Linked DNA regions of Homo sapiens: all the other regions are linked to region 3. The links come from fine-mapping of genetic effects on gene expression. A gene starts in region 3. Each other region holds a variant in brackets. All regions are shown on one strand. Distances are from middle to middle.

Evidence for each region. PIP is the estimated chance that this variant, and not a neighbour inherited with it, causes the effect.
Region 1: its variant is the best candidate, but not a certain one, in a credible set for the expression of PLCH1 in prefrontal cortex (CommonMind, PIP 0.70).
Region 2: its variant is the best candidate, but not a certain one, in a credible set for the expression of PLCH1 in cerebellum (GTEx, PIP 0.72).

What each region holds. Positions count from the first base shown.
Region 1 is chr3:155,688,409-155,693,889 of GRCh38, reverse strand. All of the region lies in intron 2 of PLCH1 (phospholipase C eta 1), which reads left to right. Among named protein-coding and RNA genes, the nearest start is that of PLCH1, 54 kb to the left of the region's middle. The variant T/C (reference allele first, on the strand shown) is at 2,844.
Region 2 is chr3:155,548,776-155,554,256 of GRCh38, reverse strand. It overlaps PLCH1 (phospholipase C eta 1), which reads left to right. Exons shown (of 23, transcript NM_014996.4): 9 at 61-181; 10 at 4,299-4,470. Among named protein-coding and RNA genes, the nearest start is that of PLCH1-AS2, 66 kb to the right of the region's middle. The variant G/A (reference allele first, on the strand shown) is at 2,596.
Region 3 is chr3:155,742,326-155,747,806 of GRCh38, reverse strand. PLCH1 (phospholipase C eta 1) reads left to right here and starts at 2,736. Exons shown (of 23, transcript NM_014996.4): 1 at 2,736-2,967. RefSeq lists enhancers at 2,774-2,983, 2,878-3,499.

The DNA.
Region 1 (5,481 bases), 54 kb after region 3:
GGCCCCATCTTGGCTTACTGCAACCTCTGCCTCCCGGGTTCAAGTGATTCCCCTGCCTCAGCCTCTCAAGGAGCTGGGATTACAGGTGCACACCACCATGCCTGGTTAATTTTTGTATTTTTAGTTGAGACGGGGTTTCACCATGTTGACCAGGCTGGTCTCGAACTCATGACCCCAGGTGATCCACCCTCCTTGGCCTCCCAAAGTGTTGGGATTACAGGCATGAGCCACCACATCCAGCCGCTGCTGTTTTTCTTTAAAAATATTTTTTCACTTTATTTTTTCTGATGATAGCAACACAGGTTCACTGTAGAAAATTTGGAAAGCATAGAAAAGAGTAAAGATGGGAAAAATAGTCTATAATCTCAATAATGTGTTTTAAGTCTGTGCTTTCTTTTTTTTTTTTTTTTTTTTTTTTGAGACGGAGTCTCGCTCTGTCGCCCAGGTCGGACTGCGGACTGCAGTGGCGCAATCTCGGCTCACTGCAAGCTCCGCTTCCCGGGTTCACGCCATTCTCCTGCCTCAGCCTCCCGAGTAGCTGGGACTACAGGCGCCCGCCACCGCGCCCGGCTAATTTTTTGTATTTTTAGTAGAGACGGGGTTTCACCTTGTTAGCCAGGATGGTCTCGATCTCCTGACCTCATGATCCACCCGCCTCGGCCTCCCAAAGTGCTGGGATTACAGGCGTGAGCCACCGCGCCCGGCAAGTCTGTGCTTTCTTAAAGTGATTTAAAAACCATTGACTAAGTAGTGATTCTCATATCTGGTTATACATTTGAATCTGCTAGGGTGCTTTTTAAAAAATGCTGATGATTAGGCCGGGCGCACGCCTGTAATCCCAGCACTTTGGGAGGCCGAGGCGGGCAGATCACGAGGTCAGGAGATCGAGACCATCCTGGTTAACACGGTGAAACCCCGTCTCTACTAAAAATACAAAAACTTAGCCGGGCGTGGCAGCGTGCGCCTGTAGTCCCAGCTACTCTGAGGCAGGAGATCCCAGCTATTCTGAGGAGGCTGAGGCAGGAGAATGGCGTGAACCAGGAAGGCGGAGCTTGCAGTGAGCGGAGATGGCGCCACTGCACTCTAGCCTGGGCGACAGAGCGAGACTCATCTCAAAAAAAAAAAAATTGCTAATGATTGGAGGGACTAATATTATCCTCATTTCGCTAATGAGGAGAATGAGGCTCAGAGAATCCTTGCTGTGATAACCACAGGCAGCTACGGGAGAGAGTAGGAAAAGCAAGGTATTCCCAAGAAGCAGGCAACAGTACGGAACAAGATGTTGCTGTGGTAAGTGCCCAGCTACCAAGTTAAAACAAAACAAAACAAAACAAAAACAATGATGGTTGGACTCAACCCAAGCCCAGGTAAATCATCTCTGGAACATGGGACCCAGATGTTTCCATCCATCCATCCATCCATCCATCCATTCATTCATTCATTCTTTATCTGTATATTTATCTATCTTCAGGTGATTTTGATGACATGGGAGGGATAAAAATCACTGCATTGAAGTTGTTGGTTGACTAAAGTATTGATTTGATCAGTACACAAAATCAGGTATGAGTTTACTGATTTAATACAGCATATAATTGTACACTAGTTTGGGCAAAAGTGGTACATGAAAATCTTGACTTTATAGACTATTTGCAGAGAGGAAGGGGGAAGTGATATGCTGACCTTCATATGGTTATTTTCCTTTTTTGTAACAAATTTATTTCATATTTCCTTTAATAGGCTTTCTTAGTGTCCTTAAAATGTGATTTGCCTTAACTTTACTACCAATATATCAACAGATATATTGATACATGATATCATGATACAAAGATATACCTTTGAGCACTAATTTTTTTTTTTTTTTAGACAGAGTCTCGCTCTGTTGCCAGGTTGGAGTGCAGTGGTGCAATCTTGGCTCACTGCAACCTCCACCTCCTGGGTTCAAGCGATTCTTTGAGCACTAATTGACCTCACAATGTTGTACACGGTCTTCTGATGATAAGTAGAAATACTTTGGGAAGGTCCTTAACAACAGATAACAAAGAACATATTAATAGTGTTTTGTTTTGATTAATCTATGATGAGAACTACACAGTTCACAGTAGGATAATTTGAAGAATTGGCACAGAAAGAAATATGAAATGCAGGAATTGAGAGAACAATGCCATCATTTGGAGTATATCAGATGCAACCTTAAATATTAACTAGAATTGTGTTTATTTGTCTACTTTGGAAAACTAAGTGGTATCCAGAGACTTAGAGACCCCTGTGCATTTTGTTGTGGAAGGCAAGCTGTGTCAGTCCCTGTAGATATCTGCTCTACCTCTGTTACGCTACATGTGAGAAAACTGATGCTCAGGTTCTCTGTGTTATTCCTAGAAGTCTCAGAGTTGTGAAGAAGAAACCTTGCCTTCTCAGATTGCTCTTGTTTTGCACAATATCTCCGGCTTTGCATATAGGATCTTAAGGGGAACACAAAGAGGAATTTGAGACGGTTGTTGCTATAACTGAGTTTAGACCTTGTCGGGAGGAATTGGTGGACTCTATGTTAGAATATTCTTGAGGGATCATTAGGAAATGTTAGGTTGATGCTAAGTCAAGGTTGTCTTTGGAGTAGCATTACCTCTTTTAAGTCTCTCAACAAGACTATTTTACAGATGAAACTCACAGAAATCACAATTTGCCACAAGTCACATTGTTAGATTATGGAGTTCAAACCTAGGTTTGTCAGACTCTCAAATCCAGGGTTTTTCCACTATTGTGACACAGCAATGCATTACACAAACTTGTTTCTTTTAAAGCTGCTGAGGGGGTGGGTTTGTGTTTTAAAAGAGCTGTAACACCCT[T/C]TCTTCAAAGGCTACTAGAGAACTTCTAGAGACACAGTGTGAGTTGCCCTTAGGCTGAGTGTGGGGAGGGGGCTGAGGAACTAGGGGTGAGGGCTAAGAGTTGGTGTCCACTGGAGTGGTCCCTGGGAGCTTGTTAAAAATGCAGACTCTCAGCCCCACCAGGGAACTTCTGAGCCAGAATCTGCATTTTAACAAGGTCCTCAGATGATTAAGTATGAGCAGCATTGCTTTAGGAGACCACCGGGCTTGGGTATTAGTCCTCTGGAGTGAGGAATTTGTCCTATTCTCCAAGGAGCACATGGAAAAAGGATGGGTGTGAGGGAGAAGAGAACTGTTTTTCATCATACAAAGCATTGAGAGGTTGGAAACTTGTGTGTAAGGAGCACAGCTGATGACCAAGACCCCCAGCAGTATCCTGATACTCAGATTCCCAAGGAGGAAACATGAGGGCTATGAATTGGCAGGTAATTTTCTTTGTACAATGGGCTTAAAAATTTGAATCTCTGTGTCTAAAACATATGAAGATATAGTCAAGGATATACGTAATACCCTGATCTATAATAGCAAGGACTAGGGGAGCCCTCTGATTAAGGGATTCTGAGCAAAACCCATAGCCAGGCTTCAGGACACTTATGAAATTTTTGCAAACATTATGCTAGATACTCTATGTAGATATGCATGTACATTTGTGCATCCTCTTCCTTTGAACAAAGTCCTTAGCTTTCATTATATTTCAGAATAATCTGTTATTCCTTACCCTTTTTGTGAATTATAAACCTCTGAGTAAAACCACTCTCCTTTTATAGATGAGAAGGTAAGTGACTGGTACATATTGATAGCAACCAGCTAGTGGCAAAGTTAATTCTAAGGTAAAAGTTTTTTCTGTCAACACTTTAAATATGTCATGCTACTCTCTCCTGGCTTGTAAGGTTCCCACTGAAAAGTCTGCTGCAAGACGTATTGGCGCTGCATTGTATGTTCTTTTCTTTTTTTTTTTTTTATTCTTTTTTTTCTCTTGCTGCTTTTAGGATCCTTTCTTCATCCTTGACCTTTGGGAGTTTGATTATTAAATGCTTTGAGATAGTCTTATTTGGGTTAAATCTGCTTTGTGTTCCTTAACCTTCTTGTACTTGAATGTTGATATCTTTTCCTAGGTTTAGGAATTTCTCTGATATTATCTCTTTGAATAAACTTTCTACTTCTGTCTCTCTACTTCCTCTTTAAGGCCAATAACTTTTAGATTTGCCCTTTTGAGGCTATTTTTTAGATCCTATAGGTGTGCTTCATTGCTTGTTATTCTTTTTTCTGTTTTTCTCCTCTGACTATGTGTTTTCAAATAGCCTGTCTTTAAGCTCACTAATCCTTTCTTCTGCTTGATCAATTCTGCTATTAAAAGATTCTTCATCACGTCAACTGTATTTTTCAACTCTAGAATTTCTGCTGGTTCTTTTTAATTATTTCAACCTTCTTTTAAAGTATATCTGATAGAATTCTGAGTTCCTTCTCTGTGTTATCTTGAATTTCTCTGACTTTTCCTCAAAACAGCCATTTTGAATTCTCTATGTGAAAGGTCATATATCTCTGTTTCTCCAGAATTGGTCCCTGGTGGCTTATTTAGTTTATTTGGTAAGGTCATGTTTTCTTGGATGATGCTGATGCTGGTAGATGTTCTTTGGTGTTTGGGCATTGAAGAGTTAGGTGTTTATTGTAGTCTTCACGGTCTAAACTTGTTTGTGCCTGTTCTTCTTGGAAAGACTTTCAGGTATTAAAAGAGACTTGGGTCCCAAGTCCAATAATGCTGTGTTTTTTTCAGACTCGTAGAGTTATCACCTTGGTGGTCTTAGATAAGATCTGGAAGAATTTTCTAGATTACCAGGCAGACTCCTGTTCTTTTTCCCTTACTTTTCCCAAACATATAGAGTCTCTCTTTTTCTTTGCTGAGCCACTGGGGAGCTGGGAGGGTGGTGATGCAAGCACCCCTGTAATCACAACCACTGGGACTGTGCTGGGTGAGACCTGAAGCCAGCATGGCACTGACTGGGACTTGCCCTAGGCCCTTCCCTTCAGGATGGCAAGATCCCCCCCGGCCCCAGGCATGTCCAGCGATGCTGTCTGGGAGCCAGGGATTGAAGTAAAAAACTTTAGCAATTTACCTGATGTTCTATTCTACAGCGGCTAAGCTGGCACTCAGGCCACAATACAAAGTTCTTCCTGCTCTTCCCTCCCCTTTCCACAGGCAGAGGAGCCTTTCTCTGTGGCCACCCGCTACCACTGGTCCATGGGGGCTTTCTGCTAGGCCCCTGTCTGTGTTCACTTAAAGTCCAAGGGCTCTTCCATCAGCAGTGGTGAATGCTGACAGGCCTGGGACCCACCCTTCAAGGCAGTGGACTCCCTTCTGGCCCAGGGCGGGTCTGGAAATGCTGTCCAAAAGCCTAGGCCTGGACTCAGGGACCCTAAGAACCTGGTTTTTGCTCTACCCCACTGTGGCTGAGCTGTTACCTTATTTTTGGTTCCTGTGATGGTGCTTTTCTGTGTGCAGATAGCTGTTAAAATTTGGTGTCCCAGCAGTGGGGATGAATGGTGTAGGCTTCTGTTCTGCCATCTTGCTCCTGGGGGTTAATTCTAAAAGCCAGTATTC
Region 2 (5,481 bases), 190 kb after region 3:
AGAAATATTAATAAACACCAGAGACTTTGGGTTGTTGATATAAAGTTCTGTTTTTGGCAGTTGACTGTTGGGATGGCCCAGATGGAGAGCCAGTAGTACATCATGGTTACACTCTCACTTCAAAAATTCTCTTCAGAGATGTTGTGGAGACCATCAACAAGCATGCCTTTGTGAAGAATGAGTAAGTAAAGCAGCACCTGTGAGCTAAGCGGTAGCCTCCCGCATGGAGCATTGCCTGATGTAACGTAGCTACAAAACCACATCCTCTTCCTTGGACTCTACACTGCCCTCTTTGCTAGACTAGTTTTCTCCCTCCTTCTCAGCAAAACATTGTGAACAAATAATGTGGCCTTCCCGTTTGTACTTTCTCATGCTGCATTTATTCCTTGTCCCATTCTTTCTCAATATGCCTCCTTAAAGACATTCTTGCAAATAGTGACCTCTAAATTTCTAAATCCAGGGTGTAGAGTGTCCATAAAATCTGGAAACATAGGTTACTGTGTACATAATTAGTGGGTTCTGATCATGATGGATGTCTTATCTATACACTGAGGTGTCTGGAGTCCTTATGTTACTTGACCCTCTCCTTGTCATTTGACAGTGTTGAATATTTCCTCCCCACTACTTGCCTTTTTTGGTTTCCATTATATCATTCTCCCCTCCATTGCTCTCGTTGCTTCTCAATCTCTTTTTTTTGTACTGCAGTCTTCTGTTAATCTATTTCCTCATTCCTCTAATGGTTAACTGTTTTCTAAGGTTTTGCCCTAGATCACTTTCTGGATATTTATCAAATTCTATGTCCAGAACTTTCCCCTCAAGTTCTAGGCCCATGTTGAAACATACTCAGTGAGGCCGGGCACGGTGGCTCCTGTAGCACTTTGGGAGGCTGAGGAGGGTGGATCACGTGAGGCCAGGAGTTTGAGACCAGCCTGGTCAACATGGCGAAGCCCTGTCTCTACTAAAAAAATACAAGTATTAGGTGGATGTAGTGGTACACATCTGTAATCCCAGCTACTTGGGAGGCTGAGGCATGAGATTTGCTTGAACCCAGAAGGTGGAGGTTGTAGTGAGCTGAGATTGCACCACTGCACTCCAGCCTGGGTGACAGAGTGAGACTCCATCTCAGAAAAATAAAAATAAAAATAAAAATCCTCAGTGAATATTCATCTGAGTATCCCATAGGTGTGGGGAGCCACAACAGTGAGCAGAAGATAAGACTCCTGCCATTAAGGAGCTTACTCCCCAAGGGGAACTCAGCATCTCATTCTGCCAAACTTCCTCTTGATTCTCGCTCCATTTCCTCTTATTAATAGTTAGGGGCAGCACTGGCCTCAGCCAGAAACTGGGAGTCATTCTAGACTCAACCAATTCTTGGCAATTCTACTTCCCAAGTTATCTTTTGACTCCATTGCCTCCTGTTCATTTTTATTTCCCCTTTGGTTCATCCTCAACACTGGTGCTATAATTTTCTTTCTGAAATATGAGCATGGTGATTCAATTCTTGTCTTAAAGCCTGTCAGAAGCTCTCTCAATACACAGGCATGTCTTCATATCCCTTAAGGTCTGGCATCTCCCTTGTCTTCCACTATCATCTTCCACCATTATTCCACAGAGATTTAGGATTCTGCCTTCAATGACTGTCTTTCAGCTTCCCTATTGAGCCTGGCTCTTTCTCAACTCCCCACTCTTACGTATGCTGTTCTCTCTGCCTGGAACAACCTTCCCCGTTAGTCTATCTGATTAATTGTTGCTTATTCTACAAGGCCGTTTAAGTATTGTCCCTCCAACAAGTTACTAATACCACCAGCTGATTTAAATCTTCTTTTTCTCCATATTTTCTCTGTATTTAGCACCCTGCACATATTTCTGTCATATCATATAGCACCCTCTTGCAATTGGTTGGTTACTTGCCTTCTTTTACATCTGTAAGACTGTGAACTCACTGAAAATATGAGCAATCTCTTATTATTTTGTATTCATTTTTGTTGCCTAGCAGGTACCTTCAGTATACCAGCTATTCAAGAAAGGATTTTTGAATTAAAGGAAACAAATTAAAATTACAATTGTGTAAAATTAATTTTTTAGAAGTTAGTAGCCTTTAAAATTTCCAATATTTGGTCTTCTCATTAATTAAACATGAGGTTAAAAATGCTTTTCTAATAAGACACACTTGCTGTATAGCAGATTTAGTTTATGATGCCTCCCACGTGGAAGAATCTTGAACACTGCATTCTAATGGGTCTTTACAACCCTGATTTCTACAGGTCCTAGCCAAATGGGTGAAGTAATTTTGCCTTTATTTCCCAATGTATGAAGTAGGGTGTTGAGAAGGCCTGCCACCTATGTATCTTGGAAGATCCTCTGGTGATTTGACAATTTACTTCAAGTTTGGGAACTCTTAGAAGAAAAGCACTTCAAATTAAAAGAGTTAATAAACTTGTTTAGTACATTTTAAAAGTTCAGCCTTTTCCTCTCCTTTCTTAACTTTGGTTGCATCTTTATATCAGGGTTTCTCAACCTTGGCACTAATGACATTGTGTACTGATAATTTTTTTTTTTTTTTTTTTTTTTTGGTAGAGAGCTGTCCTGTGCAGC[G/A]TAGGGTGGAAAGCAACATCCTCAGCTTCTATTCATTATGTGCCAATAGCACCCCTGAAGTGTGACCACCAAAAATGTCTTCAGATATTGACAAGCGTCTCCTGTACTGGGGGGAATAATTGCCTCGTTCCCTGTTGAGAAGCACAGCTTTACACTAAACATCATCAAGCACTAATTAGGCTTTTTTTTTTTTTTTTTTTTTTTTTTTTTTTTTTTTCTGAGGCAGCCTTGCTCTGTCGCCCATGCTGGAGTGCAGTGGCATGATCTCAGCTCACTGCAACCTCCGCCTCCTGGGTTCAAGCGATTCTCTTGCCTCAGCCTCCTGAGTATCTGGGATTACCGGCACGTGCCACAATGCCTGGCTAATTTTTGTATTTTTAGTAGAGACAGTGTTTCACTATATTGCCCAGGCTGGTCTCGAACTCCTGGCCTCAAGTGATCTGCCTGCTTCGGCCTCCCAAAGTGCTGGGATTACAGGCATGAGCCACCACTCCCTGCCACTAATAGATTTTTTGTAAATGAATTGACAATGTGAAAATTCCTTGTTAAAACTCCCTGATGTGACTGCAGGACAACTCAGGGTTGTCAGTTTGTTGTTGCTGTTGCTTTTCCCTCTTCTAGCACTTTAGGGTAAAACCTATGTGAAGAAATGAATAGCAAACAGATTGTAGTCGAGTAAGGAAACCTACCTCAGCCACAAAGGCTCATCTGTAAGATGGCCCACAGCATCAGGTTTTACTAATGAGGAGAGAAGGTAGGTCTGGCGGTCATAGCCCGTATTGTGGAACTTGTGCTTGTCATGAAAGCCTGGAAAAAGTTTTTCTGCACATTGATATATTAGGTGATTTAAATATTGGTATATGTTGATATATTAGGTGATTTAAATATATTGCCTATTATGTCTGAAGACATGTAACGGAAAACTAGAAAAAAGTCAATGAACCTGAATTTGAAATAATTTCTTATTCTGAGGAAAAAATAAGGTTGAGAGAGGAGTAAAATCATGTAATCAGCCCTGATCTCCTTTCTGCCTTAGCCACCAACTCCTTTAGGTAATTATTTACATGGATCTCATGTTTTCTGTGCAGAAACCTGAGTGCTGGTGTAGAATGAATGCTTGGCTGGTTTTTATTTTTATTTTTTGACAAAGACTAGTATATAATTCTATCAAAGTGATTTTGAAATGTGCGACGTAGGATGCTATAAAACACAGAATTCCCTTATGTTATTTTATCCTCAATCATAATTTTCAAGGTGGGGGTTAATTATATATTTTAGAGTCAATAGCTTCATTTAATGACATTCAGTGGTCTCTTAGAAGCTGTTAGACTTTTGAATAAATAAGACAAAATTACATTATATGAGTTTACTTTCTTTAGACTTCTCATCTCTTTTAAAATTTTCTCTTCTTTTAAAAGAAACATAATATATCTACCATTGTTTCCTGATGCAAAATATTAGAAAAGCCATCCCATGTGGATTGGTATTTTGTTCATCCATTATGCTTAGCAAAGTATATTTGCTCAGAGGAATTTTTTAAATGCATTTCTAATCTTTCTCATTTTAGAAGCATTTTAACCATCATCAGTATCGCAAATACTGTCACTAGGATTGTAACAACACAGTGAATACTGAATCATTTTCAAAAGTCCCTGTGAGTTGCCTGCACCTGACGCCTCTGGACTGTGTTGCTCTTTTCTCAGGTTTCCTGTTATATTGTCTATCGAGAATCACTGCAGTATCCAGCAGCAAAGGAAGATTGCTCAGTACCTGAAAGGAATATTCGGAGACAAACTGGACCTGTCATCTGTTGATACAGGGGAGTGCAAGCAGCTTCCAAGCCCTCAAAGTTTGAAAGGCAAAATTCTAGTGAAGGTAATTACTTCAAGTAATGCAATAAAAGACATTCATTATCAGCTAAGCCTGCCCTCCCTTAAAGAATAAAAATGGGTTTCAAGGGAGAATAATAATTAGAATCAATATATGAAGGATTGTCTAGATCTATGTATGCGCCTTATTCCAATTTTTTTATAGTCGTGTCTTCAGAAGAAGCTTATTGTTGAGTGAGCACATATTCTGAGATTTGTACTTATGAAGTGGAAACATCAATACTGTAAGCCAAATGTTTGATATTTTAGTCTGTAATAGTTCACACTAGAGAGAAATGTGTGTGTAGGAGCGTGAGGTTCAGGAAAGGAGAAGGCTCCTTGTATCCATATCTGAAAGCAGTTCTTTCAGACTTTTTCTCCCATTTCAAGCTCCAATAACTGTCTGTCAAAAAAACCAAAAAAAACAAAAAGCTTCATGGTTGATCAGTCTTGGTTATGCAAGTGAGAAGAGCTCACTTCAAAGAGGAACACAGGCACAGACATAATAATGCCCCACAGGACTCATGTACGTGTGAAAGAGCAGTAGGTGAACAGAATGACATTTCATAAACAGATTTTCTGAGAGAGGAAGCTTACTACAATAAATATTATTCATGCAAAGAATAGCCAGAAAGACAGTTCTTTCAGTTTTCAGATCACTGACTTTGTGGTTTTACTTATTTCCAGTGAATTTTGTGTGTTTGTACTAAAACCACCTTGGGTGGCCACATCATTTTGTGATTAAAAATGTAAAGGAAAGCAATAGGGTATTAAAATTCAAACTGGGTTATATTTTACTTAAAAGAGGTGTGTATGAAAAAACAAATATATAGGAGGAGCAGGAAAGTCAAGGAGGCAATGTAATTTCATGGCAGGACTTCAACTGGGGCTTTAAGGGAGAGCAGCACATGGAAAAGATGGAACATATTCATTCTTAGAATTGGTCAAAACCTGTTTTCTACCAATTAAATAAAATTATAGATTCTGAATACATCAAAAAGGTGTTGCTAGGCATTTA
Region 3 (5,481 bases):
GTCCCTGTGCTTGAAGAGGCAGGGCTAATTCAACCCCAGACTTTTCAGCCAGGCGGATTTCAACCTTGTATTGAGCTACCAGCAGGAGTTCTTTATACTTGGAAAAGTGGTAAATCCTTACTAAAAGATCATAGCTTGCATGACCAAGAGATCCTCTAGAAAAGGTACTTTACTACCATGTAGGATGTTTGTCTTACCTGCCCAAAGAAGTTTTAATGAAGATCTCATTTTCTCCAGTTCCCCTTTAACCAGTGAAAGAGGAGGGTATTATTTGTTTTGTTTTTCTATTTATTCTTTGGTAACCATGGAAGAGTTTGTGTAACCTAGAGAGGCTGCTTATTACCCACTGTCTAATCCCTTTGTTATTATTCCATACTCTGATTGTCACAAGCAGGAAAAATAGTTCTGTCCTGCTTCTAAAAACTTAGCAATGTAACACATTTTCTTGTTTTTAGTGATTTTCTCCAATTAATTAATTAATTGTTTTAGTGATTTTTCTCAGATAAATAATGTTAAAACGACTTGGAGAGAAAAGCTACATTAAAAGATTATGGATGTATAAATGTCCTAAACATTTAAGAACATGCATAATTATGATTCATACCAACTTCAGAATTATTACCTTTGGGAAGGGGTGGGGGTAACGAGTCAGGAGTTGGGGTTTAGCTATATCTGTAATGCTTTATTTAAAAAAGAAGGGCTGGGGGGAGCAGGAGTATTACATGGTATATATCCTGTTTTTGGTAGGTTTGAAATATCACACAATTTAAAAATTTAAAAGTTTACAAAATTATGGGAGTTGATTAAAACTATCAAAATAAAGAATGCATAGCAAACAAGTGCTCTTATTATGAACTTTGTGTCTGAGTTTATTTCAACATGTGCATCTGCATTTTTTCAGACTCAAGAAAGACAAACACCGGAGGTTAGGGGGTGAACTGCTGCTGTTGAGGGATTATCTTGGTGGTTTTTTTTTTTTTTTTTTTTTTTTTGGCTTTTCTATTCACCATGGAGGTTACCAGCAAAACAAATCTCCAACAAGCTTGTTTACAAAATATAAAGCAGTTTGGAGGCAGAGGGTTAATGACTTAATTTCTTATAAATTGAGGCTTGTGTATGGGCATGCAAAAAAACAAAAACAAAAACAAGTAAATTTGGGGAGGTTTCTTTCTATAGAGGCAAAGGACCTTACCTACATTTTTTCCAAATTGATTTCTTCCTGGTACTATTGGCAGGAAGAAATTCAAGTGGGTATTCTGGTGGCTTTTTTCTTTTTTCTGAGAGTCTAGGATTGTTTTCAGGACAAAGTTTCTTCTTGCCCATGGTGCTTTGCTGTGACATTGTAATTGCCTCTGTTGAATTGAATAATACAAATGGGTTGTTTCTATGGTATCGGCTAAGTGGGATGAAAAGGTGAAACCCTAGATCTTGCGCTGAGAGGTCACAGTGCTACCACCCTCCACACTGTCTGTCAAAGAGAACAGGCAGCCAAGGCCCTGAGCTCCAATCTCAGGCACTCATTTGTAACTTACTCGTTTGTAACTTCCTGGGCAAATTCACGCATGAAAAAAGAAAATGACTTTAGTTTATGTTGTCACTAAGCCCAGAAAATCCCTGCCAACCCCATGCTGCCAGCTTTCCTAGGACATTCTTATTGGAGGATTATTTTAAACTGAAAGGTGAGTGAAGAGCTGCGTCCCCACTCCTTCCCAGCCAGGCTTTGAACTAACAATAGGGCAGGTTGAATGAAGGCTGATAAATGTAAATCCTGGAATCCAGAAGCCGGATCACACCGCGGCCGTCTAGGCCAGCGGCGGTTCCAGCATCCGCCCCAAGCTGGTCACTCATCCTTTCAGTGCATTCAGTAGATTTCATCGTTTCATCAACACTTGAGTGCCTGCTTCGTGCAAGCTTTCCTCTGCCACCGCCGCCTTCTTACTCCCGGCAGGTTGCCCGCTTGAGTCAACCAGCCACTAAACGGATCTAAGTGAATAAGTGGCCTGTTAATGCCAAGGAGTAGCATTTCCAAATGAAGAGACTGGGGGTAAATAAAAGCAAAGTGTTACCATTTACACGCTCTCAATTTTAGTTGCACTTCACTCAGAGTAGATCTCTTTAATTTGCGGCATCGACAGATGCTATATTCTTAGAAATTTTTTTTTTTTAAAGGAGGTAAGACGGGCGTTTGAGAACACTTTTTACTTTGGTGCAAGTTGCACGCAGTTCCCATTCACTCAGAGTAGATCTCTTTAATTTGCGGCATCGACAGATGCTATATTCTTAGAAATTTTTTTTTTTTAAAGGAGGTAAGACGGACGTTTGAGAACACTTTTCACTTTGGTGCAAGTTGCACGCAGTTCCCATTCCCTGCGCCCTTCACTTCCAACTTTGTTTCTCCAACTCCTTTACCCCCCACCACCGAGGCCCTCTGGCTACAGCCCCGAGGGGTTACCCTGGGTTTCGAAACTTTTGAAACTTGCGGGGGAGTAAAAGTACTTCATTCCCAGTGCTTCTGGCCCTTGCCAAGCGGGGAGCCCCGCAGGAGAGTGTAAGCCAAGGGTTCCAGGTGCAGCCTTGGGGTTCCACGTGCAGCCCTAGGGTTCCGTACACCCATCCCGCCCGGGCCAGAGGAGGCAGCAGGCGCTCCAGTCCGCTCTCCGCAACTCCAGTTCCTGATTTCCTCGGAAGCTGCGGGGCCGAGAGGGAGGGGGGCTCCTGTGTGAGCGTGAGGATTTGAATGAGAAAGCAGGTTGTGGCGGCGGCGCCCTGCTCTTCCCCGCTCGTCTGGGGCTTCTGCTGGCTAGTGGGGAGAAGTGCTCTTCTAGGGGGGCTTTTCTGGCCCTTGGCAGGGGTTTGGAGTTGGAGTCACAGGGGCCAATAACTCATCACCCCAGCACTTCGGAGGTGGCTCCTTGTGCCACGGACTCCGAGGAGTCCTTCAGCTACTGAACACTCAAAGCTGAGGAGGTCAGTGCTTTCGGGGGAAGAAGGGGCCCAGGAGAGAAGGGGGTGTGCAGGAAAAAGAGAACTGGTACGCCAGTCCGATGAGCGAGTGAGCAGGTGGCCCAAGTTCCTTTCTCGGCAGCCACAGCCGGCACACGCCTGTTTAGGACTGTGAGTGCTGTGCGTGGGGATCCCCTAAGGCCCCGTGCGGGGAACTGGCCACGGCCGCTCTTCAGGGTCCCATAATTCAGAAGGATGAGGGTGGGTGTGTGTGTCCGCGAAATAATGTAACTCTCGGGTCCCTTGCGGTGGTGGTGGGTGGCGTTTCGCCCGGTGGAAGGTCCAGCCTCGCTGCAGGATGCTTCACCCTCACGCGGGGTCCCGGGACCCTCTCTCTGACCGCCAGACGCCGCCAGGAGAGCAGGTCCGCGTTTCCCAGCAAGGGGAGTGCAGCGTCCGTTACACTTGGGGAGTCTCACAGCTTTTCCTGCGCCCGGTGACCCTGCTCAGGACCTCTTAGAGACTAGGTGTGCTCAGCGCGAGGAGGATATACTCCATTGCCCTTTCCTGGGAAGAACCAAGAGCGCCCGAGCGGCGCGGGGTGGTGGAGGCAAACCCCGGCCCCGCGGCGGCACGCTCTGCGCCTGCGCGGCGTTTCCTTGGCGACTGAGCTGCGGGTCCGAGACGCCACCCCGCGAGCCCCTAAACCCAGTTCCCTGTTGAGCGTCTGCGACGCCCTCTCCCCTCCTTCCCGAGGCTTTTTCTATTTGTTTCCTTCTGCGAATCAATTTGTGATCACATTTTGACGTTGAGAGTTCAGCATTAAAGCAATAACCAACTAAATTAAAAAAAAAAACCCAACTTTTCCCTTCCCTTGTTACCGTTTTGATCACGGACAGAAGAAAATGGTGAGAGATTAGTTATTAGGGCAGCAATTGAAATCCCCCTCTGTCCCGAAAAGGGGAGACGAATAAAACATTTACTTCCTGGTAAGGAGTTAGAAAATTCAGTGAAGTGATTGTTCTCGAGCGTTACAAGAACAAATCTGTGCCTCCTAACCCAGGTGAAGAGCAGAGCTTGTACAACCCAGCAGCACCCATGTCCTGTTTATTGGCATGTTTATGACAAGGAGATGCTCTGCAAAAGGGACCAGAGTATAATGCCAATGAAAAGAAACAAAGGATTTCCCAGAAGAGGCGGTAGTTTTTTTCAGTTGCCTCAGCGTTTTGGTCACCTTTGGGGTTAAAGTCTTCTGCAGAGAATGCTTCAAGAAGCCTTAACAGAAGCCAGTTTTCTCAAGCTGGTCATTTTCTTTTTCTTTTTTTCTTTTTTGAGACGGAGTCTGGCTCTGTCGCCCAGGCTGGAGTGCAGTGGTGCGATCTCGGCTCACTGCAACCTCCGCCTCCTGGGTTCAAGCTATTCTCTTGCCTCAGCCTCCCGAGTATCTGGGATTACAGGCTCCCGCCACCACGCCCAGCTATTTTTTGTATTTTTAGTAGAGACGGGGTTTCACCATATTGGCCAGGCTGGTCTGGAACTCCTGACCTCAGGTGATCCACCCACCTCTGCCTCCCAAAGTGTGGGGATCACAGGCGTGAGCCACCGCGCCCAGCAGATGAGAATCATTTTCATTTTCATAAAATTGTGAATCTTGACAGCCCTATCCCCTCTTTTAAAATCCGTTTGTTTACATACAGCCTAGCATTTGGCAAAAGTACACATCTTAAGGGGTATGTAGAAGGAGCGGTAGCTTCTTGCTTATTTTTCTTAAACTGCATCAATATTTGGCAGCATGATTGGTACCTAGTTGCTATTTAACATTGGTTAGAATTAACATAAATGCTAATACAAATTTAAAATGGAGTTATTCTTCTTGGGATAAAGTGTGGCATAAAATACCTTGGATGAAGTAATACGTGAGTACTGTCTCGCTACATACCAGTTTCAAGCAATTTGTTTTCAAGAATAGCAAGTGTTTATTTGTGGTAGATGTTTTAAGATAATATCCTCCCACCATCAGCAAATGAAATCAAACATACCACTTTTCAAATGATTAGCGAGTAACATGCTGTTAAAGTTGTCTCCCATCTCATTTGTCATAAATTCTTAACATTGTGCAATCCATCTAGCTCAAATGTTTAAAAATAAGTCCAACTGAGTTTTTCCCCTTTTCTCATGTTTAGCAAAATAGAAAAACTCTTAATTTTCAGGTTCAGATACTTTGTGACCCTATTTGGTGGCTTGTAACTGGCTCCAATTCCCTAATTCTCAGTGACATGTGTTTCTGCTGGTTCCAGGAGGTAAACTGCAGTTTTAACAGATCATGGGATAATGAGACTGGGAGTACCTGGGGGAGGCTGGGGAGAGGCAATGGGAAGGAGACAAAGAGAGGGAAGGTTGATGGGCAGAGCGAGGATTTATAGTGGCACCAGATTTGCAATAAAATCTGTTTAAAGTTATTGCTTCCGTTTGATATATTTTCCCACATCATCAACTTCAATTAAATTTATTTTAAAAATCAGTCTTTCAGATATAGGG